Regions from separate parts of the Homo sapiens genome. Here all the other regions are linked to region 3. The links come from fine-mapping of genetic effects on gene expression. A gene starts in region 3. Each other region holds a variant in brackets. All regions are shown on one strand. Distances are between the middles of the regions.

The links.
Region 1: its variant is fine-mapped to the expression of UQCRC2 in whole blood (INTERVAL, PIP above 0.99).
Region 2: its variant is fine-mapped to the expression of UQCRC2 in skeletal muscle (GTEx, PIP 0.96).
Region 4: its variant is fine-mapped to the expression of UQCRC2 in whole blood (INTERVAL, PIP 0.90).
Region 5: its variant is fine-mapped to the expression of UQCRC2 in blood mononuclear cells (TOPMed, PIP above 0.99). The same link has a PIP of 0.9 or more in whole blood.

The regions. Positions count from the first base shown.
Region 1 is chr16:22,043,123-22,048,262 of GRCh38, forward strand. The region is part of intron 1 of MOSMO (modulator of smoothened); the gene reads left to right. Among named protein-coding and RNA genes, the nearest start is that of MOSMO, 38 kb to the left of the region's middle. The variant C/T (reference allele first, on the strand shown) is at 1,947.
Region 2 is chr16:21,345,190-21,350,329 of GRCh38, forward strand. It overlaps the pseudogene SNX29P1. Among named protein-coding and RNA genes, the nearest start is that of CRYM, 69 kb to the left of the region's middle. RefSeq lists enhancers at 2,105-2,664, 3,817-4,624, 4,625-5,140 and a silencer at 4,985-5,140. The variant G/A (reference allele first, on the strand shown) is at 2,197.
Region 3 is chr16:21,950,751-21,955,750 of GRCh38, forward strand. It overlaps UQCRC2 (ubiquinol-cytochrome c reductase core protein 2), which reads left to right and starts at 2,611. Exons shown (of 14, transcript NM_003366.4): 1 at 2,611-2,706. The coding sequence starts at 2,674. RefSeq lists enhancers at 1,944-2,403, 2,492-3,209, 2,724-2,893, 2,904-2,953.
Region 4 is chr16:21,820,756-21,825,858 of GRCh38, forward strand. No RefSeq gene overlaps it. Among named protein-coding and RNA genes, the nearest start is that of NPIPB4, 34 kb to the right of the region's middle. RefSeq lists an enhancer at 1-524. The variant G/A (reference allele first, on the strand shown) is at 2,079.
Region 5 is chr16:21,709,805-21,714,930 of GRCh38, forward strand. It overlaps OTOA (otoancorin), which reads left to right. Exons shown (of 29, transcript NM_144672.4): 13 at 84-299. Among named protein-coding and RNA genes, the nearest start is that of OTOA, 48 kb to the left of the region's middle. The variant A/G (reference allele first, on the strand shown) is at 2,217.

The DNA.
Region 1 (5,140 bases), 92 kb after region 3:
AAGACATGCAGCATTGGGAATTTAACATATGGAAAATTTTTCATCTGTTTCTGTGATCTTTTAACTGTCTTAGGCCATTAGGTTGCTAGCATGACACATAGAAACTGTATATTCTTCATGAGGACAGATAAGCATTATGAATAGCAAGAATTTTAAAGTTTTCTGCTTTTTTTCATTAAATTCTGATGGTACCCAGCATTTTAGTCTTTTAGTCACAGCAGTACATTTCCATTTCTGACATAACTATCATTTGACACATATAGGGATTATTTTTCCTTAAATATGTATCTTTACATTGCTCACATGGATGCTTATCATCTGACTATTCACACACTCTTGCCTCATCTTCCTATATTTTATCAGTGAATATTTATTGAGCACCTCTTTTATTCTAGCCATTTTGCTAGGTATCCCAAGGAAAGCCTACTGTGTTCTGAAAAATTGGAATTCATTAATTAAATTAAACAGGACTAACATACTATACTTTTCCATCCAGAGAAATGCAAAATTATACCTTGATTCAAGACAAAATAGTTTGTCCCTCCCAGCCATAGAGAAAGCTGAGTTGTTTGTTACTTTTAGATCTTAGGTACAGAATCTGATAAAGTCTAGGTGGTTCTGTATACCAGCAGTTGAATTTATAATCGTAGAGACTTGCCTTAAATATATGATCAGTTTAGGTAAGTTCGAGAAATTCTGAAGTGTCAATTATGTTGTATTAGTCCGTTTTCATGCTGCTGATAAAGACATACCCAAGACTGGGTAATTTATAAAGAAAAAGAGGTTTAATGGACTCACAGTTCCACGTGACTGGGGAGGCCTCACAATCATGGCAGAAGGTGAAAGGCCTGTCTTACATGGCTGCAGGCAAGAGAGAATGAGAGAGCCAAGTGTAAGGGGAAACTCCTTATAAAACCATCAGATCTCATGAGACTTATTCACTACCATGAGAACAGTATGGGAGGGAACCCCCCGCCCCCATGATTCAATTATCTCCCACCAGGTCCCTCCCACAACCCGTGGGAATTATAGGAGTTTCAATCAAGATGAGATTTGGGTGGGGATAGAGCCAAACCACACCATATATAAAAATAGTATAGATAATAGTTATATGGAGTACTACCCACTGAAGGGATACATGTTTACCTGTTCCCCCAAGTTAGGTAGCCAGAAGTGTTGTGTTTGCATTGTTGGCACAACCTGTCAACATTAATAATAACTAATTTATTAAGTACTTCTGTGTGCCAGGGATTGTTCCTAAGCTTCCTACAAGAATAAATTTATTTAATCTTCCTAAGAATCCTGTGAAGTGGGTACAGTTGAGCATCCCAAATCCCAAATGCTCCAGAATCCAAAACTTTTTGAGCACTGACATGATGCTCAAAGGAAATGCTCACTGAAGCATTTTGGATTTTTGGATTGGGGATGCTCAACCGTAAGTATAATTAATGCAGATATTCTAAAATCTGAAAAATCCTGATATCTGAAACACTTCTGGTCCCAATCATTTTGGATAAGGGATACTCAACCTGTACTACTTACTCTCTCCATTTCACAGATGAAGAAAGTGAGGTAGGGAAAAAGATAAGTAACTTGCCCAAGGTTACAGAGCTGGTAAGTGGCAGATCCCCAGGCAGCCTTGCTGTATAGCTTACTGTCTCCTAACCATTATTCTATGCTACCTTTCATGGGCCCTCATGTTAAGAGTAACTCTTCAGTTTAGCAAATTATTCTGCATTATATGATGAGCTTACATATAATAGCAATAATAGACCAGAAGCGGTGGCTCACACATGTAATCCCAACACTTTGGGAGACCAGGGTGGGCAGATTGCTTGAGTTCATGTGTTCAAGACCAGCCTGGACAACTTAGCAAAACTCCATCTCTACAAAAAATACAAAAAAAAAAAAAATTAGCCAGGTATGGTGGTACATGCCTGTAGTCC[C/T]GGCTACTCGTGAGGCTGAGGTGGGAGGATTGCTTGAGCCCAGGAGTTGGAGGTTGCAGTGAGCCAAGATCGTGACACTGCACTCCAGCCTGGGCAATAGAACCAGACATTGTCTCAAAAAAAAAAAAAAGGCAATAATGTAACTAGGTGAAAGGAGAGATTCAGTTCTTCTCTGTGGTTTCTTATACACAATCAAGATTCTAATATGTTCATAGTTAATTCATAGTGTAAAGTTTGGGTATTTTAGAAAAATGTGATGTTTTCTGATGTGACTTTACAGGAGTGGGAAAGGCATAGAAAGGCAGCGCTGGGGCTAGAGCACCATAGTCTTTATAAATAAAATGTATTGTGTTATCAGTATTGGCTCTGGGCCTTGATGGGTAGTAAAATATTTAGGAACTGAGAAAAATGATTAGGTATTAGATCCTGAAAATAAAAATTTGCTTTTTGCATTTCTTAAAAAGATTTCCTACGCTAAAAGGGTGGCAGTAAGTTTAAAAAGGTTTTAGTTACTGTTTTAAAAAAATAATTGCATAGCATATTTCATTTACTCAATAGCCACATGTGGATTTTTGGATTTGGGATGCTCAACTGTAAGTATAATTAATGCATATATTCTATGGATCATTTATGGATCCATAAAATATTCTAAAATACTTATGGATAATTTCTGGGGAAAAATTGCAAGTCTTTTTGAATGAATTTAGGTGTCAGTAGTAACTCATTTTGATTTCTTTAATTCTCTTTGGGGGCCTTGTCAAGAAAAATTTGAGTTAAGAGATATATATTTTTTTCTTTCTTCACTAGAACTCTTTTTTTTTTTTATACTTTAAGTTTTAGGGTGCATGTGCACAACGTGCAGGTTAGTTACATATGTATACATGTGCCATGGTGGTGTGCCGCACCCAGTAACTCGTCATTTAACATTAGGTATATCTCCAAATGCTATCTCTCCCCCCTCCCCCCACCCCACAACAGGCCCGGGTGTGTGCTGTTCCCCTTCCTGTGTCCATGTGTTCTCATTGTTCAATTCCTGGCCATATCATCACCATGAAAAGCAGGCAGCTGAGGAATGTGGGATTTGAGTGCACAGGAAAGCTAAAGGGACACTTCAACCCCTATTAATGGCTTTATTGCTCTATTTAAAGACTAGAGCTATTGCTCTGGCCAACATGGTTCTTTTTTGTTTTTTAAACTTTAGTAATACAGTCGATTCTCATGTGGTAGTTATGTTCTGTAAAGTCACTGCAAACATTGAATTAGTGAATACTGGATCATTGCCCCTGGGGGAAATAGGGTTAGGTTCCTGCAGGTCTCTGGTCACATTTCATCAACTGATCAATACATAACCTCATTGTATGTCTCTGTTTTAGGACATATTATTTAATATGTATTGATTCAATTACATTAATATTATATATTAATAATCCTGTACAAGAATATATGTCAACAGTATTGTGCCAGAAGCACTGTAACTCATGCCTGAACGAAGTTTCCCTAACACACATATTTTCTCTGAAAGGGAAAATCCTTCTTGCACTTAGGAACACTAGACGGCACTTGAGCACTATAATTGGGACCATTTTAAACAGTGAAATCATCAGTAAAAGGCACAAAAATGTGAAAGACGTGGCGCTGAAGAGACCACAGAAAAGACATGCACTTACTATAGGAGAACTGAGACAACAGAGCATTGCCATGCTAAGCTGCATATGGGAACATGGCTGTCATGTGACTCAAATTTTTTTGCCACTCTACACGTGGATTACGTCCTCAGATGACCACAAAAGTGCCACAACTATTGATTTGGAGCTTGCAGATAAATTTTAGTGAGTAGGCATATTTGCAAGTATGGAATCCCTGAATAATGAGGATCGACTATATATATTAATGCATTCTACATTTTAAAATGAAAAGTTAAAATATAGGACTCGCTCATCCCTACCTTTTTCACCCCCTCCTGGCATCTTTCCTTTCTGGAACTACTATCAGTTTTCTACATATTTATAAATATGTGGACTTACAGAAATATATATAATTTTTTAATAAATGGATCTCATGATATATACTATTGTGTGGTTTGCTTTTTTCTCATGTGTTAGAGATCTTTCCACGTCAATATACACAGAATTATTTCCTTTTAGTATTCTATACTGTTTATGCACCATAATTTTTTTTTTTTTTTTTTTTTTTTTAGACGGAGTCTTGCTCTGTCGCCAAGGCTGGAGTGCAGTGGCACAATCTCGGCTCACTGCAAGCTCCGCCTCCCAGGTTCATGCCATTCTCCTGTCTCAGCCTCCGGAGTAGCTGGGACTACAGGCGCCCGTCACCACGCCCGGCTAATTTTTTGTATTTTTAGTAGAGACGGGGTTTCACCATGTTAGCCAGGATGGTCTTGATCTCCTGACCTTGTGATCCGCCCGCCTCGGCCTCCCAAAGTGCTGGGATTACAGGCTTGAGCCACCGCGCCTGGCCTATGCACCATAATTTAACCATTCCTGTATTGATAGATATTTAGTAATAGTGCTATTATAAGTAATAGTGCGGTGAACATCTTTGTACCTGTTTCTTTTTCCCTATATGCAGGTTTTTCTGTGGGTTGCATATGTAAAAATGAAATTGCTAAGCTGAAAGGTGTATGCACTTGAAGTTTCCTTAGAAAGGCAGTTGTGTCAGGTCCTCTGGGAAGCTGACACTGAGACAGAGTTAGGACTGCAAATAGTTCACTGAGTACCTGTGAAAGATAGGCAGTCAGAAGCTGAAGGAAGGGAAAGAGCTCAGACTGATTTACATCTAACAGTTACAGCCTATTCAGTGGGGCACTCTGGAGTGAAGATTGCCTATTAGAAGGATAGTACTACCAGTTGGTTAGAAATAGCCAGGCCCTGGTACTCCCATGTATTCAGTTATTGACCTGTGACTGCCAGGGAAGAAAGTGGCCTGATCTTGAAAGACGAGGGAGTTAAGTCCTAAAGGCACATCAGAACTGAACTGCAAGGTATCTTCAAGGGAGATCTTGAGCAGTGTACTTCCATGGTTGCTACTGCAGTGTAGGACTGTGTAGCATAGCAAATAACACAGATTATAGAGCCAAATTCCCAAATCCAACATCTCTGTGTAAGAAAGATGTTACTCTACATCTGTGTGCCTCAGGTTCTTTATCCGTACATCTGTAAAATGGAGAAATAACAGTA
Region 2 (5,140 bases), 610 kb before region 3:
CCAAGCTCTCCACATGCAGCATGCAGGTGGGCATGTTGAATCTCCTTTGAATCTCATGAATTTGAGATTCTGATTTAGTGTAGCTAGGCAATTTCTAGCATATTGCAAGTATCAACATTCTGTTATGTGGCTGGGCACAGTGGCTTACACCTATAATCCCAGCATTTTGGGAGGCCAAGGCAGGCGGATCATTTGAGGTCAGGAGTTCAAAACCAGCCTGGCCAACCTGGTGAAATCCCTTCTCTACAAAAAAATACAAAAAAAAAATTAGCCCAGCATGATGGTGGGTGCCTGTAATCCCAGCTACTTGGAAGGCTGAGGCAGGAGAATCGCTTGAACTTGAGAGGCGGAAGTTGCAGTGAGCCAAGGTCACACCACTACACTCCAGCCTGGGTGACAGAGCAAGACTCTGTCTCAAAAAAAAAAAAAAACCAACATTTTATTGTTACTTTAAAAAATGTATTCAGTGGAATCTATGTACTATGGCAATTTAATACCTACCATTAGCTATTGGTAAAAAATACATGGAAAGCTTTTCTCTCCCCTTCCCCTCTCCGCCCCTCCCCTTCCCCCTCTCCGCCCCTCCCCCTCCCCCTCTCCGCCCCTCCCCCTCCCCTCCCTCCTCCCCTCCCCCCTCCTTCCTTCCTCTCTCTTGCCCTCCCCTCTCTTGCCCCTCCCCGTCCCTTCCCCCGCTCACTCTGTTGCCTGGAGCTAAGTGCCATGGTGCCATCTCAGCTCACTGTAATCGCCTACTCCCAGGTTCAAGTGATTCTCCTACTTCAGCCTCCCAAGTAGTTGGGACTACAGATGCGTGCCGCCACACCTGGCTAATTTTTGTATTTTTAGTAGAGACAGGGTTCACCATGTTGGTCAAGCTGGTCTCGCACTCCTGACCTGAAGTGATCTTGCCTGCCTTGGCCTCCCAAAGTACTGGGATTACAAGCGTGAGCCACCACGCCTGGCCCGCTTCTCTTTAATAATCAGAAATTTTATGTCTTTCATTTTTCTCCTTTCATTCATATCAACATTCTACTTCTCTCACAGAATTTCATCTTTCTGCTTCCCTCCCCTGTCCCCTCGAGATGGAGTCTTGCTCTGTTGCCCAGGCTGGAGTGTAGTGGTGCCATTTTGACTCATTACAACCTCCGCCTCCCAGGTTTAAGTGATTCTCCTGCCTCAGCCTCCTGAGTGCCTGGGATTACAGACCCCCACCACCACACCTGTCTAATTTTTGTATTTTTAATAGAGATGGGGTTTCACCATGTTGGCCAGGCTGGTCTTGAACTCGTGACCTCAGGTGATCTGGCTGCCTTGGCCTCACAAAGTGCTGGGATTACAGGTGTGAGCCACCGTGCCCAGACTACATTTTTATGCTTAAAAGCTTTTTAAAATTAGTCATTATAATTCTCTGCAACAAAACTACGTGTATACAATGAAAATTAAAGTTTTTCTGTGCTCTTAATATTCTAAGAGTTTAAGAAAATTATGATTGAGACATCATTACAGTGAAAATTAATACACAGTACATCAAAGCAAATGTATCTCATTTTGATTAAACACAGCAAGTAAAATTTGTTGGAAATGTATCTTTAAGTGCGTGGATGAGACTTTTGCTCTATTAGTTTAATTACCCATGGACAAATATTGCCAGCCTGAAACAGCTTTTAATGTCCACTTTAAGAACTTCATTCATTTAAATAAGTTGGGACTAAAAGGGGTTTTGTCATAGCAGCATCACGCCACTCTCAGGCCCTTCTGCATTCCATGTCGGAAACCTCAGTTCCTAAGACTCACTCGTAGTGATCTCTGCAGAAGAGTGGAGATGCAGTGAGCCGAGGAAAAATGAAGCATTTCCTCTTCTCTGCTGTGGGAGTCGAGAGTGAGGGACGGGGGTGCACACATGCTGCACAAGGCAATGCCTAAGAAACTTCTCGTTCACCCCGTTCACACCTGTTGCCCCCACAGAGCCGATGATGAGCACCCCACCTCCTGCCAGAGAGCTCCTGCAGCCACAGCCGCAGCCGCAGGCCCTGCACTACGCGCTGGCCAACGTGCAGCAGGTGCAGATCCACCAGATCGGAGAAGACGGACAGGTGCAAGTAGTACGTACCCTCTCCACCTCGCACCTTGGGAAAGGGGGCTGCGGGGTGGGCCACGGCAGGGCCCTGGCGGCTTCCACCAGTTCCGCTGTGTTTC[G/A]GGAGCACAGTGATAGCTTGGGAGGAGGCACAAGGTTCCCATTTAAAGTAGAGGTCATCATGGCCATGAGCTCTTAACATTTCACAGGTGGGGGCGGCTGCTGCAGAGCCTAGGGATTGAAGCACATGGTGGGGTGGGGCGTTCAGTCAGCTCACCTCAGTCCTGCCAGCAGGCAGGCGGGCAGTCAGCTCCAAGGGTCAGGCTGTGCAGTGGTCCCTGCCCCAGCTCGTGCTCCTGGGAAGCATCGGAAATATTTCTCAGCTCAGAAGTGCAGGCGTCCTCTTACTGAGGGAAAGAGTAATTTCCTTCTAGGATCAGTGGCAAAAGCTTGAGGTCATTGTTCCCATGCAGCGTTTCCCTTGGAGTTACTCAGCACACCCAGGTTGGGCGGGCACTGTCCCAGCAGCAAGTCAATGTCCTGCCTTGCCCATGCGGAGTTCTCTGTTGGGGTTTTGTGACCCAAGCTGTGGTCAGTCTGATGCGCCTAGGGGCTCGCTCCCGGGTGAAGTCCCTCTACAAACACCTCCTGGATTCTGTGGCACGAGAGTAGGGGGCGGCTGAGAAGAAGACTTTTCTGGAAGCTTTGCTGAGTGACTAGAAATTTTACATGCACCACTAGACATCGCCTATGTTTTTAGTGGCACCAGCCCCCTTGGGCCCTCTGAAGACAGGTCATCGTGTGCCTCCGTGTTACCAGGGCTTTCTCCTGGAAACAAGGTCCTCCACTGTTGAGAGTGGGTCGTGGCTCTCATCTCAGTGTGGCTTCAGCGTGCTGTCTGGAAGAGGGAAGGCTTCCAGAAAATTCTGGGGCTTTTAGAGGGGGCATTACCCTTCCTCTTCCAAAGGAGATGAGACAGTTATGAATAGTGAATCTTATTTAATAAGCTTATTAATTTATTTGACATTCACAATGGCAGTTCCTCTCATCTTGTTAGTAAGAAGTTCTTTGAAAGCGTTCCAGAGTAGATAACTTTGTCATAAGGCTTACATAGAACATTCTACAGGAGTTTAAGATCCATTTCGACTAAGAGAGAATTTCAAATAAGATAAGTATTCATTTCATTTACAGGTTTATAGGAAATATTTGTCTGCCCATATGTATAAACAGTGGATTCTTTGATTTTTTTTGAATCACATTTGTTAGTGTTTCCTCAAACTGTTTAAATAGTCATATGAGTGTTTCTTTGATTTGAAAAATGTTGCCTGCCCTGTTGTGAGTGTAGGCACGCAAACAGCTCCCCTGCTTCAGCCATACACTGCTTGCGTAGCCTCCCAGCATCCCCAGAGAGCTGAACGTATCATTTGAAAAGAGGTGTCATTGTGATTTTCTATTTCCCCTCTTTTCTGTGTGTCATGCACATTTTAAAATTTACTTGTTTAGTAACATTTAAAGATGTATATATCTTTCCTGGGACCTATTGCTCCTTTGTGAAGTACTGGAACATGTTCTGTGTTACACAGTACCCCCCCTTACCCATGCTTCCACTTTCCTAGGTTTTAATTACCCATAGTCAACTGTGATCTGAAAATATTAGATGAGAAACTCCAGAAATAAACAATTTGTAAGTTTCAGATTGCATACTCTTCTGGGTAGTAGCATGATGAAGTCTGATCGTCCTGCTGTGTCCAGCCTGGGACGTGAGTCATTCCTTTGTCCAGCATGTCCAAGCTGTGTGGCACGTATGGGCAGGAAAAAGCATAGCATATACGGGGTTCCGCACCATCCACGGTTTCTGACGTCCACGTGGTGGGGGGAGGGGGCGCTTCTTGAAACCCTCATGGATGAGGGGGACTACTGTGAACCAAAAGCTTAATTTAAAGAGGTGACCACAGACTATATTGCACTATTCAGGATTTAGTTATCTTTTTGAATTGTAAACAGATAATCAAGAACAAACATTCCGGAAGATGTTTCTTGTTTCCTTTGCTTTTTATTTTCTTCTGATGCTTCTTGGTGTCTTTTCTTGCTGCGGATCCCACAGGGACACCTCCACATCGCCAAGGTGCCGCAGGGGGAGCAAGTCCAGATCACGCAGGACAGCGAGGTGAGTCATCTCTCGCTGCAGCCCTGTCCCTGCAGGCACTGTGCCCGCATGCTCCTGACCTTCATCGGTGTCACAGTGCGAGGGCAGCAGGGAGCCCCCAGGATGGGGAACATGGGCGAGGGCTGCAGGACTCCGCTTCCAGGGTGCACATAGCAGGCCTGCAGTCTCTGTGGCCTCACTGCCTCCCCCTCCTGTCCGTTGGTCTCCACAGCTTCTGGTCTGTCTTGGCAAAGATCTCCTGGGTAGATGTTTCTGCTTCTGGCTCGAAGTGCCCTCTGAGTACCCTTCTCTCCCTGTCTGGCCCTGCCCTTCCTGCCAGGGGAGGGCCCCAGTGTGGCCGAGATGGGGTCTGCCCCTGCACAGGTGACCTGACATACCCCCTCACCTGCCATGTGGCCCCAGCTTCCTGGTGGCCTCTACGGGATTAGTGCCGATTTCATAGGATGGTGGGGAATCCCACAAGGTGATGCTGCCAGTCCTGAGAGCTGGTCATAGCCCTGACGCACCTGCCATGTCTGTGATTGTCTCAGTTTCTGGAGCTCTACCCAGCCACGCGCTCAGAAGTGCGGGCTCAGCTGCTGTTGGGGTCTGGAATGTGAAGGCGGGAGTGACAGTCTGAGTTCTTGGAAAGCCGAGGCCGGCCGGTTGCGATGCTCCGTGTTTGCGTGCCAGAGCAGGACTGTCTTCCGGGTGGCTGGTGACCATCCTTCGACTCTGGGCTGTTTCCTGCAGCACAGGCAGCAGCAGGCACAGGGCAGTAAGCAGCGCACACGTGCTGTACTGAGTGACCGTGGTGCGCTCTGGGGGATGAGGAACATGGCTGTTTCTAGGTCGTGCCAATGGCACCAGCTTTGTGTTTGGTGTATAGTAGTGTATCGCTACGAAGATCTCAGGCTTCC
Region 3 (5,000 bases):
AAATTATGCATTGGGGAAGCCATGATTAATGCCTCTGGCCCTAAGATGGCAAGGTAATGTTGTTCCCAAGTATAAACCCACATCACCTTCCTCTGGTGTGTTTTACTCCTACTGTTGCCTGCTTTCTCTTTACATTCTCCCACCCCATACTCACCGCGAGCGCTCAGGCTAGGTAGTTAGGCTCCATAGAGTCAAATTGGACCCCACATTAACGAAACTAACAATTCGAGCTTTCCAGCAATGAACTCATCTGCTCTTCCATGTCTACTCTTTTCCTGTCTGCTGGTTTCCTCTCCCAGGGCTTTCAGTGTGTTCTACGCAGAAACCAGTTCAAGGACTGGGTTTTCTTCTGCAATAAAATGCTGGAGTTGTGGCAGAGACCTCCACAGTGAGAACAGCCACGGAGTTGGCTAGGAGGTGACATGATGTGGAAGTGGTGGATGTGTCCACAAGATGGCACTCCTAATTTGTAGCTTAATGCTTAATAGGACATTTTGCAATTGACAAACTTGGGATTTTATGATTTATGTAGCTGATATCATGAATTATGTTTCAAATCCTGCCACATTTTGAACAGAATTTATTTTTGCCCCTTTCTGATATTGGGTCATAACCTAAGAATGAGAGGACATTATAAGCAGGTGTGGGTGTGTGTGTGTGTGTGTGTGTGTGTGCACTTGAGTGTGGAGACTTTTGTGTTCCTCCTACCTGACCTGAACTGTTGAATGATGAAGTTACAATGATTGGACTCAGGGGTGCAGCTAGCTAACTTGGGAATTGGGGTTTTGAAGTACTGGAGACAGCTTTGTATGCCATGTTAATGAATTTGAATTTTATCCTGAAAAACGTGGCTGTCGTTGAAGAATTTTAAGCAGGCAGGTGGCTTGATCAGAGCACTGCTTCCCAGATTTCACTCAATGGTACCTGTATAACACATTCATGATTTTTGCTGTATCTCCGTATCATCAAGTTACTTAACGTTTTTACACCAACTTTTATTATTTTATAAATGTACTTAAAGAGGAAATTCACTACTAGCATTGCTTGCCATAATCAAAATAAATATATTATTAAAATGGAACAGTGCTAAATAAGGTGTACACATGGACATAGAGTGTGGAATGACAGACAATGGAGACTCCGAAAGGTGGAGGGGTGGGAGAGAGGTGAACGATGAGAAAGTACTTAATGGGTACCATGTACATTATTCGGGTGATGGGTACACTAAAAGCCCAGACTTCACCATTACTGCAATATATCCATATAACATAACTGTACTTGCGCCCCTTAAATTTATACAAATTTTTAAAAGGAAAAAATGGAAGTGTTCATCTATGTACCAACTTAAAATCATCTCACGCACCACTAGTGTTAAATCTACCACATGTGGGGAAACTGTGTGGTATGAATTGGGTTGAGGGCGTCCCCAGCAGGCACAGAAATTGGGTTGGTGCCAGGTTCTTAATGCCCAGATCTTAATTAGAGAGCCCAAGTCCGTTGTAGGCCTGGAGCAATTCAGACACAAGGCAAAAAGAAAGTACATTTGCCTATGCCTTGTAACGTCTACACCACCAGCCTTTCTGAAACTATTGTGCATACGAAGTCATCCCAGGATCTTGTAAAAACACCGATTCGGATCCAATATGGGACCTGGAGTTCATACATTTCTAATCAACTCCTAAATGATATTGATGCTGATACTGTCGGTTTCCCAACCAAGCAACGTAGCAAGGTACGAAACTCTAAAGTCCCTAAAGGGCAGGGACCACGCCTCTCGCGTTGGCATAGTGCCTAGCTCAAGGCACTTTCTGGGTTAACACTCGCTGAGGACCGGAGTGAACGCCCCCGCCCCAAGTCGTCACGTGACTGACTTTCTCCAACTGCCGGTTTCGGCTCACATAACACACCTACTATCCAAAACATTTCTATTTTCCTAACACAAAAACTATAGCTAAGTTTTTATATTCTATGTAGCCCCAGCCTAGGACGTAAATTCCACGAGACCAAAAGCCTTGTGATGATTCCCCGAGGTTGCTGACCCTCCCGGTGTGTCCCGGGCCTGCTCTGGGGGACACAGCGGCGAATACGTTGAACGAGGCCCCTGTTTCACGGAGCTAAAGATCCAGTAAGGACTTCACCCAGCGAGAGGCAACTACGCCGGGCTTCGATACCCAATACCTCTGCAGAAAGGTGGAGTGGCAGGAATCTCCTGAAGCCTCCAACGTCCAGGAACGCGGAAACCCAGGGCCTCCAGTGCAGGTGTCATCCCGGAGGGCGCATGCGGAGTCCCAAGAGAGGCGCGTCCCATTGGACAATGCTGAGCGGAAGAGCCCAAGATAGCGGGGGGAGTTGTGACAGGCTGCTGCAGACGTACTTAGAAAAGGGGTGCATACTGGATATTCAGGCTAGGAGAAGAACGCAAAAAGCAGTGACGTACATTATTCTCTGCATATATTTACTTGGGAAATTGTGCGTCTCCCTATTCTGAGTCTTGGAGGAATTGGACTGGTCCAACCTTATAAAGAGAGCAGTAGAGCGCGGCAGTATAGAGAGTACCTCACGAAGGGGACGTGGGAAAGTGTTAGCGGGGAACGCTGGGAAACTCCCGGCCTCCGCCACCATCTTGCTTTCCTTTAATCCGGCAGTGACCGTGTGTCAGAACAATCTTGAATCATGAAGCTACTAACCAGAGCCGGCTCTTTCTCGGTGAGCTCAGGTGGCGGGTTTGGGAAAGGGCTGGGGAGCAGTGTGTCGACAAGGTGATACGAGGCGGAGGTGTCTGGTCTGGGGTCTGGGCCTTGGGATTCGGTCTGCCCTTCAGCTGAACCCTGCGGGCCAAGTGGGCTGCAGACTGGGTCAGGCTTTGGAGGCCCAGCTCATGCTGTGAGCACAAGAGACCTAACACCGGGAAACCTGAAGAGAGGGGCAGGACGTGAGAGCGGAGTTGAAGCGAGTCCTTGGAGAGACTTCTGAAGGTCACTCCGGTACTCAAGTGCTGGAGAAAGAGACCGTGAAACCCAGGGGGAGCGGGAGGACGGCGCACTTAGCCCCCCACCTTCACTTTATCCGCTGCAGCCTCTGCTCCTTGGTTTATCACGGAGCGTCAGTTTCCCCAGCGAATAAAAGTATAAGAAAGGAGCTAATGCAGATAGAACACTTATTACAGTACCTGGAACTTCATTGTTAAATACTATGGTGTCTTAGTAGTCTAACGTTGCTTTTCTTGATCGTATGTTAGACGGTTCCTCCAAGACGTCTCTGTTTGTCCTCAAAAGCTCCTTAATTAAGTTTCCCCTTCAAGCCTAAATTAAACATAGCTGTCACTTGGGGAAAACTCACACATCAGGGTTATATCACTGTGGGACAGTGGTTATTAAGAGGGGTAAGGGGGAACACTTAAAAAATCATAGCGAGGGACAGAATGCCCCCAGGGAACCGGTGGCGATGTTTGGAGACATATTTAGTTGCAACAACTTGTAAGGAGGGTGCTATTGGCATGGAGAGGCCAGGGATGCTGCTAAACTTCGCCTTACAGCAAAGAATTATCTAGCCCCAAGTGCCAGTAGTAGTACCTGTGTTGAGAAACCCCCCTAGATGGAGATGCAGAAGACCAGACCTGGGCATGGAATGTTCTTATGCTTTATGTTTACATAAATGTGCTGTGGGCTATATCGATTTAGGCTGTAATTGCATTAACCTTCCAGGTATACCTAGACACACCAGTGATTACCCTTGGAGGGAAGCACGGTTAGATTGGCAAAAGACCCCAACATTTCCTTCTCCATTCTATTTTGCAACAGAAAAAGCTCAGAGAAAACAGTTGGAGAGGCCCAAAGTAAACAAATTGCAGTAAACTTGAAAGCAATTATTTATGTGTCTAATTTTAGCACTTTATATAGGAGAATAAACTTAGATATATCTTGTTATTAGAACAAAATAATTTAGAAGATTGCATGACAGTTACTAGGATAATTTGCTGATTTGAATGGGACGATTAAGAAGCACATTACCGGCGGAGCGCGATGGCTCACACCTGTAATCCTAGCACTTTGGGAGTCAGAGGCAGGCGGATCACTTGAGATGAGGAGTTCGAAACCAGTCTGGCCATCATGGTGAAACCCCGTCTCTACTAAAAATACAAAAAAAAAAAAAATAGCCGGGCGTGGTGGTGGTGGGCGCCTCTAATCCCAGCTACTCAGGAGGCTGAGGCAGGAGAATCTCTTGAACCCAGGAGGCGGAGGTTGCAGTGAGCCGAGATCGCACCGCTGCACTCCAGCCTAGACGACAGAGCGAGACTCCGTCTCAAAAAAAAAAAAAAAAAAAAATTACCAACAAAGAGTTACTATTTGGGCACATTTGGTTGGAAAACACCTAAAATCTCACTTGGTAACGGAATTATAGATTATTCATATTTGAATTGCTATGCCCATATATCTTAAAAGTTTACTTTTTGGAAAATTATAGGCCAAAATTACAAAGAAGGTTAACTATACCATACCCAGCAAACTAAATTGATGACGATAAAGTAAAGCTAATTGTAATTCATAACTGAAAAGCAGTACTAAAAGCAAGTGATAACCAGCAGCCAACCTAGTACAGCACTAATGATGTACAACAAACAGCCTTCTGGACAGCACAGAGTGGAGGCATTGCAGACTGTGCAGGGATGTCCGGGAAACTCCAGTGAGGAGGTGTTCATTGGGTCTTGGGAGCACCAAATTTTATTCACTCATCATCTCCTCTAATAACCTCATGAACTTTAGTCATAATCAGAATGATTTGTATGGCATTGTATAACATTTGCCAAAACAAACTGAATAAAATGAATGCATTTTGGGTCCATTATCTAATATTTAATGGGACCCTTTCACCCTACCAGTAACTGCATTTTATATATTGAGAATCTGATGTGGATGAAGCCATTATTAATCTCAGGATGACATACATGTCATAAATGTTTTATTTAGTCAAAAAAACTAAGACCTTTGGTTGTGTGGTCT
Region 4 (5,103 bases), 130 kb before region 3:
ACTTGTGACTGACCCAGATCTTCACGGAGGAAAGGGGATTCGAACCCGGCTGACCCAGGAGCCTGGGCTCTATACTCAGTGCAGCATTCTCACAGACACCCAAGATAACGTTATCCTCATGGAAACGAGCTCGACGAAGTGACCTACCCCAGAGCCTCAAGGCTGTGATGATGCTGGCATGAGAAACAACAGGAGAGTTACCAAGAGGTGTTACCCCCTTGACTTTATTTATTTATTTATTTATTTATTTATTTATTTATTTATTTTCTTTTGAGACCGAGTCTTGCCCTGTTGCCCAGGTGGAGTGCAGTGGCGTGATCTCAGCTCACTGCAACCTCCGCCTCCCCAGTTCAAGCAATTCTCTTGCCTCAGCCTCCCAAGTAGCTGGGATTACAGGCGCATGCCACCACACCCGGCTAATTTTCGTATTTTTAGTGGAGACGGGGTTGCACTGTGTTGGCCAGGCTGGTCTTGAACTCATGACCTCAGGTCATCCACCCGCCTCGGACTCCCAAAGTGCTGGGATTACAAGCGTGAGCCACCGCACCCGGCCAAACTTAAATTTTTAAAAGAGGAACAGAAGTCAGCCAGACCAACAAAAGAGCGACTGGTGTTCCAAGCATAGGAAACAGAGGAAACAGAGGCCAAAACCTCGGGACTGTGGAGGATGTAGAGGGAGAGCCGGGGCTGCCCCTACTCTCAGGGAGGGGGAAAGGTTGCAACTTTGGAAACTGTACAGGCCTATCAAAAATACAAAAATATCCAGCCTGGGTGACACGGTGAAACTCCATCTCTACAAAAAATTTAAAAAATAAAAATAATAAAAATTATCTGGGTGTGATGGCACACACCTGTAGTCCCAGCTACTCGGGAGGCTGAGGATTGCTTGAGCCTGGGAGATAGCACCACTGCACTCCTGCTTGGGCAACAGAGTGAGACCCTGTCTCGAAATAAATAAATAAATTTTTTAAAATGCATATGTATGGGCCCGGCGCAGTGGCTCATGCCTGTTATCCCAACACTTTGGGAGGCCGAGGCAAGTGGATCACCTGAGGCCAGAAGTTTGAGACCAGCCTGGCCAACATGACAAAACCCTGTCTCTACTAAAAATACAAAATTAGCCAGGCATGGTGGCAGTGCCTTACTAATCCCAGCTACTTGGGAGGCCGAGGCAGGATAATAGCTTGAACCCAGGAGGCAGAGGTTGCAATGAGCCAAGATTGTGCCATTGCACTCCAGCCTGGGTGACGAGCGAAACTGTGTCTCAAAAAAAAAAAAAAAGTGTGTGTGTGTGTGTGTGTGTGTGTGTGTGTGTGTGTGTGTATGTATCTCTCTCCAGGAGTTCAAGACCAGCCTGGGCAGCATATGGTGGTGCATACCTGTAGTCTCAGCTACTTGAAAACTGAGGAGGGAGGATCGATTGAGCCCTGGAGGTCAAGGCTGCAGTGAGCTGTGATTGCACCCCTGCACTCCAGCCTGGACAACAGAGCTAGACCCTATTTCACAAAATAAAATACAGCAATTTGGTTTTTTTGTTTTTTGTGTTTTTTTTGAGACAGTCTCGCTCCGTCACCCAGGATGGAGTACAGTGTCGTGATCTCGGCTCACTGCATCCTCCGATTCCCAGGTTCAAGCGATTCTTGTGCCTCACCCTCCCCAGTAGCTAGGATTACAGGCATGCACCACCATGCCCTGCTAATTTTTGTATTTTTAGTAGAGACAGGGTTTCACCATGTTGGCCAGGCTGGTCTCGAACTCTTGACCTCAAGTGATCCACCCACCTTGGCATCCCAAAGTGCTGGGATTACAGACATGAGCCACCACGCCCCACCAGCAGTTTGTTAAACATAAACCATAGCTCTGTTTTGCAACAGTGTAAAATCAGTAACTGTCTTTCCTGAGTCTCTATTTGGTCCTTACTGAGTTCCTTGGGAATGTTGGACAGGAATCATCTGTGTCTCAAGGACAGAGGAAATAATTGCACCCTAGTTCACAAAGATACTTCAAGATAACTGTTTAAATGAGAATCTCTTCTTCACTTCCAAGGCAAAGCGAAGCAAAAACAAAAAGCAACAATA[G/A]CAAAACAGCAATTTGACAATTATCTGTTTTGTTTTGTTTTGGTTTGAGACAGGATCTCATTGTCTAGCCCAAGTTAGAGCGCAATGGCGCGATCACAGCTCGTTGCAGCCTCGGGCTCCTACAGCTTATGCAATCCTCTCACCTCAGCCTCCCAAACCCACACCACCAAGCCCAGCTAATTTTTTGTATTTTTGGTAAATACGAGGTCTCACTTTGTTGCCCAGACTGGTCTTGAACCCCCGGCCCAAGTGATCCTCCCACCTTGGCCTCCCAAAGTGTGTCTCCCCACCTACACTCCCATTCTTTCCCTTAAAAAAAGTCTGAGTCTGGGTGCAGTGGCTCACACCTGTAATGCCAGAGCTTTGGGAGGCTGAGGCAGGAGGATACCTTGAAGCCAGGAGTTTGAGACCAGCCCAGGCAACACAGCCAGACTCCGTCTCTACAAATAACACTTTTAAAAAACTTACCCAGGATACCCAAAGGACTATAAATCATGCTGTTTTAAAGACACATGCACACATATGTTTATTGCGGCATTATTCACAATAGCAAAGACTTGGAACCAACCCAAATGTCCAACAATGATAGACTGGATTAAGAAAATGTGGCACATATATGCCATGGAATACTATGCAGCCATAAAAAATGATGAGTTCACATCCTTTGTAGGGACATGGATGAAATTGGAAATCATCATTCTCAGTAAACTATCGCAAGAACAAAAAACCAAACACTGCATATTCTCACTCATAGGTGGGAATTGAACAATGAGAACACATGGACACAGGAAGGGGAACATCACACTCTGGGGACTGTTGTGGGGTGGGGGGAGGGGGGAGGGATAGCATTCGGAGATATACCTAATGCTAGATGACGAGTTAGTGGGTGCAGCGCACCAGCATGGCACATGTATACATATGTAACTAACCTGCACATTGTGCACATGTACCCTAAATCTTAAAGTATAATAATAAATAAAAAATTAAAAAAAAAAACTTACCCAGGCATGGTGGCACATGCCTGTAGTTCCAATTATTTGGCAGACAGAGGTGGGAGAATCACTTGAACCCAGGAGTTGGAGGCTGCTGTGAGCTATGACTGCACCACGACACTCTCTGGCCTGGGTGACAAAGCAAAATCTCATCTCTTAAAAAAAAAAAAGGGAAAAAAAGCTTGACATATATAAAATAATATGTTAATGTAAGTTATAAGAACATAATGGGCTGGGCGCAGCGGCTCCCGCCTGTAATCCCAGCACTTTGGGAGGCCGAGGCAGGTGGATCACGAGGTCAGGAGATCGAGACCATCCTGGCTAACACGGTGAAACCCCGTCTCTACTAAAAATACAAAAAAAAAAAAAATTAGCCGGGTGTGGTGGCGGGCACCTGTAGTCCCAGCTACTTGGGAAGCTGAGGCAGGAGAATGGCATGAACCCAAGAGGTGGAGCTTGCAGTGAGCCGAGATCGCACCACTGCACCCCAGCCTGGGCAACAGAGTCAGACTCCGTCTCAAAAAAAAAAAAAAAAAAAAGAACATAATGAACACCTGTGAACATATCACCCAATTTAAGAAGCCGAACATTAACTAGGACAATTGACACTTACTGTGTGCTGCTCTCAGATCCCACCTTCTACCTGCTTTCCTCCCAAAAATAGTCACCATCATGATTTTTAAAAGTCATTTTAGTTTTCTTTGCATAATTACCATATTTATACTCCTAAACAATGCACTATATTTACTTTTATTTGTCTTTGCATTTTATAAAGTTATCTCCATGCTGTATTATACTGCTGTTTGTTTTCAACATTATGCTTTTTTTTTTTTTTTTTTTTGAGACGGAGTCTCCCTCTGTTGCCCAGGCTGGAGCGCAGTGGCATGATCTCTCGCCGTCCTCCCACCTCGGCCTCCCAAAATGCTGAGATTATAGGCAAGCCACCGCGACCAGCCTGAATATTCTTGTATCGTTTCCTGATGTATGTGTACAAGTGTTTTTCTAGGGTGGAACTGTTGGGTTGGAGGGGGCACAAAAAGCTTTTAGGAAAGGAGAAAGGAACAAATTGGATATCTACGATTTTTTTTTTTTTTTTTTGAGACAGAGTCTCTCTCTGTTGCCCAGGCTGGAGTACAGTGGCACAAGCTCAGCTCACTGCAACCTCTGCCTCCCGGGTTTAAGTGATTCTCCTGCCTCAGCCTCCTGAGTAGCTGGGACTACACATGCCCGCCACCACACCTGGCTAATTTTTGTATTTTTAGTAGACATGGGGTTTCTCCGTGTTGCCCAGGCTGGTCTCAAATGCCTGACATCAGGTGATCTGCCTGCCTCGACCTCCTAAAATGCTGGGATTACAGGTGTGAGCCATCGTGTCTGGCTATTAGTTTTCCTATTTAGAAATTGTTCATCTGGATCCTCCCTACCTTTCAGCCATTTGCAATACATTTGTTGAGCATAAAGAGTGACCTTCTTGGCTGGGCGTGGTGGCTCACGCCTGTAATCCCAGCACTTTTGGAGGCCAACATGGGTGGATCACCTGAGGTCGGGAGTTCGAGACCAGCCTGACCAACATGGAAAAACCCTGTCTCTACTAAAAATACAAAATTAGCCTGGCATGGTGGCACATTCCTGTAATCCCAGCTACTCGGGAGGCTGAGGCAGGAGAATCACTTGAACCTGGGAGGCAGAGGTTGCAGTGAGCCGACATCACTGCCATTGCACTCCAGCCTAGGCATCAAAACTCCCTCTCAAAGAAAAAGAGCAACTTTCTCAAAGAAAAAGAGCAACTTTCTTGTCCACAGCAAAGAATCACTGGAAGCCATTTGATGCAATATGACCTCATCTCTCTAGCCAGTGTCGATTGGGTTACAGGAGGGCACCAAGAAGCTTCGAAGGCTGTGCCAATGTACACTTCCAGCAATATCTTCTTAAGCTTGAGTGCAGCTCCTTATTTTCCCAAAGCACAGCTAAGACTAAGGCTGCCAAGTTTTTAAAAAGATTTAAAGGAAACTCTGAGCATTATACAAGAAAAA
Region 5 (5,126 bases), 240 kb before region 3:
AGTCCTAATAGCCCTGGATATGGTCAGAGGGAGCCACCGCCCTGCTTCCTGTCAACACTCATTCCAGTTTGCTCTCCTTCCAGCTCAAAGCAGAACTCCTGGACATTGCCATGGAGAACCAGACCCTCAATGAGACCCTGGGTTCTTTGTCGGATGCAGTTGTAGGTTTGACCTACAGCCAACTGGAATCCCTCTCCCCCGAGGCTGTGCACGGAGCCATCTCCACCCTCAACCAGGTCTCAGGTTGGGCCAAGAGCCAGGTCATCATCTTGTCTGCCAAATACTTGGCCCATGAGAAGGTCAGCTGGAGTTTTAAACTCTTTTTTATTCCCCTAAGATGACCTAAGTGTATTAGACCTGCCAGGCTGCCATAAAAATATACTGTAGATTGAGTGACGTAAACAACATAAATTTATTTCTCACAGTTCTGGAGACTGGGAAGTCCAACATCGAGGTGTCAGAAAGGTAGGTTTCATTCTGAGGCCTCTTCTCTTGGCCTGTAGGTGGCCGCCATCTTGCTGTGTGCTCACCTGACCACATGAGAGCAAGCTCTCTGGTGTTGCGTCTTACAAGGAAACTAATCCCATTGGATCAGGGCCCCACCTGACCCTCATTATCTCATGACCTCATCTAACCCTTAAAGGCCTCTTAAAGGTCTCACCTCCCAATGCCATCACATTAGGGGTTAGGACTTTGACATATGAATTCTTGGGAGACACAAATATTTAATCCATAACAATCAGTTATACACACACAGCAGGGGGCAACCAATCAGTAAGAAGATGATGCTGAGGAGGACTGCCTGGGTTCAAATCCTTGCTCTGCCATTTACTAGCTGTGTGACACTAGGCAATTTGCTATTTTCACTTTGACTCAGTTTCTCTATTTGTAATATGTGGACAACAATAGCACTTACTGCCGGGCAAGGTGGCTCACACCTGCAATCCCAGCACTTTGGAAGGCTGAGGTGGGAGGATCACCTGACGCCAGGAGTTTGGGACCAGCCTGATCAACATGGTGAAATCCCGTCTCTACTAAAAATACAAAAATTAGCTGGGCGTGGTGGTGCATGCCTGTACTTCCAGCTACTTGGGAGGCTGAGGCAGGAGGATGGCTTGAACCTGGGAGGCAGAGGTTGCAGTGAGCAGAGATTGTGCCACCACACTCCAGCCTGGGCGACAGAGCAAGACTCCATTTCAAAAAAAATTAAACAACAACAACAACAAATCAGTAGCACTTATCCTGTAGCATTGCTGCGAATATTATGTGAGTTGGTACACATGAAGAAGCTAGACCACCAGGTGACACCACAGAGTAGGAGCTCAAGGGGCATTAGCCATCCCTGAGTGGGATCAACGTGTGGGACTCATCCCAGGATTTTCCTGCCTGCTGTTAAGCTGCTATTAGGTTGATGCAAAAAGTAATTGCGGTTTTTGCCATTACTTTGGGATTAGGGATGATGCTATTTTATTCCAATCTTGGGCTGCAGAGAGGGAACTGTCAGGCAGACAGTCCTCTTTGGTGGGGACAGGAGTCTTAATCTGTGTTCTTGCTGCTCCTGGGGTGGAAAATGGACATTCTTTTGGGGACAATTAATGTCCCTGGGTTGGGTCCAGTCCAGAGGGCTCCAAATCTGGGAGACTTGAGTTCTAAGCATTTTGGTGTCATCTAATTTTTTTTTTGATACGGAGTCTTGCCCTTGTCGCCCATGCTGGAATGCAATGGCACAACCTCAGCTCATTGCAACCTCCGCCTCCGGGTTCAAGCAATTCTCCTGCCTCAGCCTTCCGAGTAGCTGGGATTATAGGCACCCACCACCACACCCAGCGAATTTTTGTGTTTTTAGTAGAGACGAGGTTTCGCCATGTTGGCCAGGCTGGTCTCGAACTCCAGACCTTGTAATCCGCCTGCCTCAGCCTCCCAAAGTGCTGGGATTACAGGCATTAGCCACCGTGCCTGGCTTTTGGTGTCCTTCTCGTTTAGTCCACACTCCTGGCCACTTCCCAGGATGCAAACTGGCTCACAAGGATTGGATTAGGACCCATTCCAATCAAATAATAATAACAAACATTTGTTTATTTTTGGCTTCTGGATATTAATTTTAATTACTTTGAAACAACATAATTTACTACCAGATGTTTAACAAGCACCCATTATAATTGCTAAACTGTGAATTTAGTTTTAACTGTGTCTGACCAACTATACAAAACTCATCA[A/G]TTTTTATTTTGACAAAAGGTAGTAGGCTGGGCATGGTGGCTTATGCCTGTAATCCCAGCACTTTGGGAGGCCAAGATGAATGGATCACTTGAGGCTAGGGGTTTGAGACCAGCTGGACAACATGGTGAAACCCTGTCTCTACTAAAAATAGAAAAATTAGCTGGCCATGATGGTGCACACCCGTAATTTCAGCTACTTGGAAGGCCGAAGCAGAAGAATTACTTGAACCCAGGAGGCAGAGGAGGTTGCAGTGAGCCGAGATCATGCCACTGTACTCCAGACTGGGCTGAGCTACAGAGCAAGACTCTGTCTTAAAAAAAAAAAAGAAAAAAGTAGTAGGAATCCCAAAGAATAAAGGAGAGACTACTCCTTAAAGGTCATGTTTACTAACCTAGCACCGTAATTCTAGTGTTAGTACCTCCCATGCAGCTTGAAGGAGGATATGGGAAGAGGTGAAGATGTTGAAAATGTAAGGGGCCCCATTTTGCTTGTTCTAAAGCAAAATACCACAGTGTCTCACAAGGAAGAAAATCACTAGGCCAGGCACGATGGCTCACGCCTGTAATCCCAGCACTTTGGGAGGCCGAGACAGGCAGATCACGAGGTCAGGAGATCAAGACCATCCTGGCTAACACGGTGAAACCATGTCTCTACTAAAAATAAAAAAAAAAAAATTAGCTGGGCATGGTGGCGGGTGCCTGTAGTCCCAGCTACTCGGGAGGCTGAGGCAGGAGAATGGCGTGAACCTGGGAGGCGGTGCTTGCAGTGAGCCGAGATCGCATCACTGAGGTTGGAAATGAAAACAAAAGCTTTTGATTCAGGTGGTAAAATGAAAACAAAAGCTTTTGATTCAGGCGGTAAAGGGGTTTAAGAGTTATAGAGTAGAATCCATGCATCCAGAAGGCAGTGCTGGAGTCGGCCTCAGGAACTGGGGGGTTTCTTCTTCTTTTTTTGTTTTTTGAGACAGGTTCTCACTATGTTGCCCAGGCTGGAGTGAAGTGATCTGATCTTGGCTCACTTCAGCCTTGACCCCCCAGGCTCAGGTGATCCTCCCACCTCAGCCTCCTGAGTAGCTGGGACCACAGGCACATGCCACTACGCCGGGCTGATTTTTGTATTTTTTTGTAGAGATGGGATTTTGCAATGTTGCCCAGGCAGATCTCAAACTCCTGGGCTCAAGCAATCTACTCGCCTTGGCCTCCCAAAGAGAAGGAGTAGGGAATTTCTTCTTGGCATCCAAGTCTTTTTAAATTTCTTCAAGTTTTTAAAGCTGGGTTTGGTATGTCATGGTTCTGAGCCAGATATATTCCAACCACATTCCCCAAAGTAAATCCAAGTGGGAACTGGAGCAGGATGTCGGTAGAGAGGGCGAGGGAGGGATGAAGGGCAGCTGCAGCTCCGAGGGCTGGTCCTAGCCTGCTTCCTCCATCGCGGGGCCAAGGGAGGGAGGGTGTGGAATAACAAACATTTACTGAACACTTACTATGTGCCAGGTTGTGTTCTAAGTGAATTAATAACTTAATCCAACAATCCTCTGAAGTCAGTAGTGCTGTAGTCTTCATTTTCCAGTTCATTCTTGTGAGGTACAGAGTGTGTAAGGGAACTGGAAAAGGCCACGTGAAAGTTACGCAGCTGGGATTGAACCCAGGGCACCTGGCCTCAGAGCCATCTTGTTTAACTCCTGTGCTCACTGTCTCCATTATGGCACCATGACCAATGCCCACGCACTCCCACTTTCTGACTCAGGTACCAGGCCAGCCCATTCATCTGGTCTCTTCTAGCCTCGTGGTGACTTTATGTTGAAGGCTTTGAATCCTTGTTTCTGGACCTTGACTGGGGCTCCATGGGTCCACCTTGACAGTCCTCTCTGAATTTGATTTTAGGGAGTTGAGGGAGACGGTTTTGTTCCCTCCCAGCCCAGGACAAAGTGGTTTGTCTCTTTCCTAATACCCAACTCTTCCTACTGAGGGGTGAGGCCACTTTTACTCAGAAGGCAAGAGGTCAAAAGGTCTTGCCTTCTTTGAAGACAGCATGAGATCACCCATTATACACAGAATAACTAAAGGAACCCACTCAGCTGTCTTTTCATAGAACCAAAGCATGTCCTTGATTATATGGAAAACTATCTAGCATCTTCACTCTAAAGGAAGGAAAAAAAACCCAAGTATAATTTCTTTCTTTCTTTCTCTTTCTTTCTCTCTCTCTCTTTCTTTCTTTCCTTTCTTTCTTTTTTCTTTCTTTCTTTCTTTCTTTCCTCCTTCCTTTCTTTCTTTTCCTTTCTTCCTTCCTTCCTTCCTTCCTTCCTTCCTTCCTTTCTTTCTTTCTTTCTTTCCTTCTCTCTTTCTTTCTCTCTCTTTCTCTCTTTCTCTCTTTCTTTCTCTTTCTTTCTCTTTCTTTCTTTCCTTTCTTTCTCTCTTTCTTTCTTTCTCTCTCTCTCTCTTCTTTCTTTCTTTCTTTCCTCTCCCTCTCTCTCTCTCTCTTTCTTTCTTTCTTTCTTTCTTTTCTTTCTGACAGAGTTTTGCTCTTGTTGCCCAGTCTGGAGTGCAATGGTACAATCTCAGCTCACTGCAACCTCTGCCTCCTGGGTTCAAGCAATTCTCCTGCCTCAGCCTCCCAAGTAGCTGGGATTACAGGAACCTGCTACCATGCCTGGCTAATTTTTGTATTTTTAGTAGAGATGGGGTTGCACCATGTTGGCCAGGTGGTCTCGAACTCTTGACCTCAGGTGATCCACCCGCCTGGCCTCTCAAAGTGCTGGGATTACAGGCGTGAGCCACCATGCCTGGCCAACTCTCTTTCTTGATAGAAGGAAGGAAGGCCTGTGGAGGCAGCATCTGTCTGGCTCACTGCTGTGCCCCTAAGGTGTCACCCATCCCTATACTTGGCACATAGATGGGCTGAGTGCACGT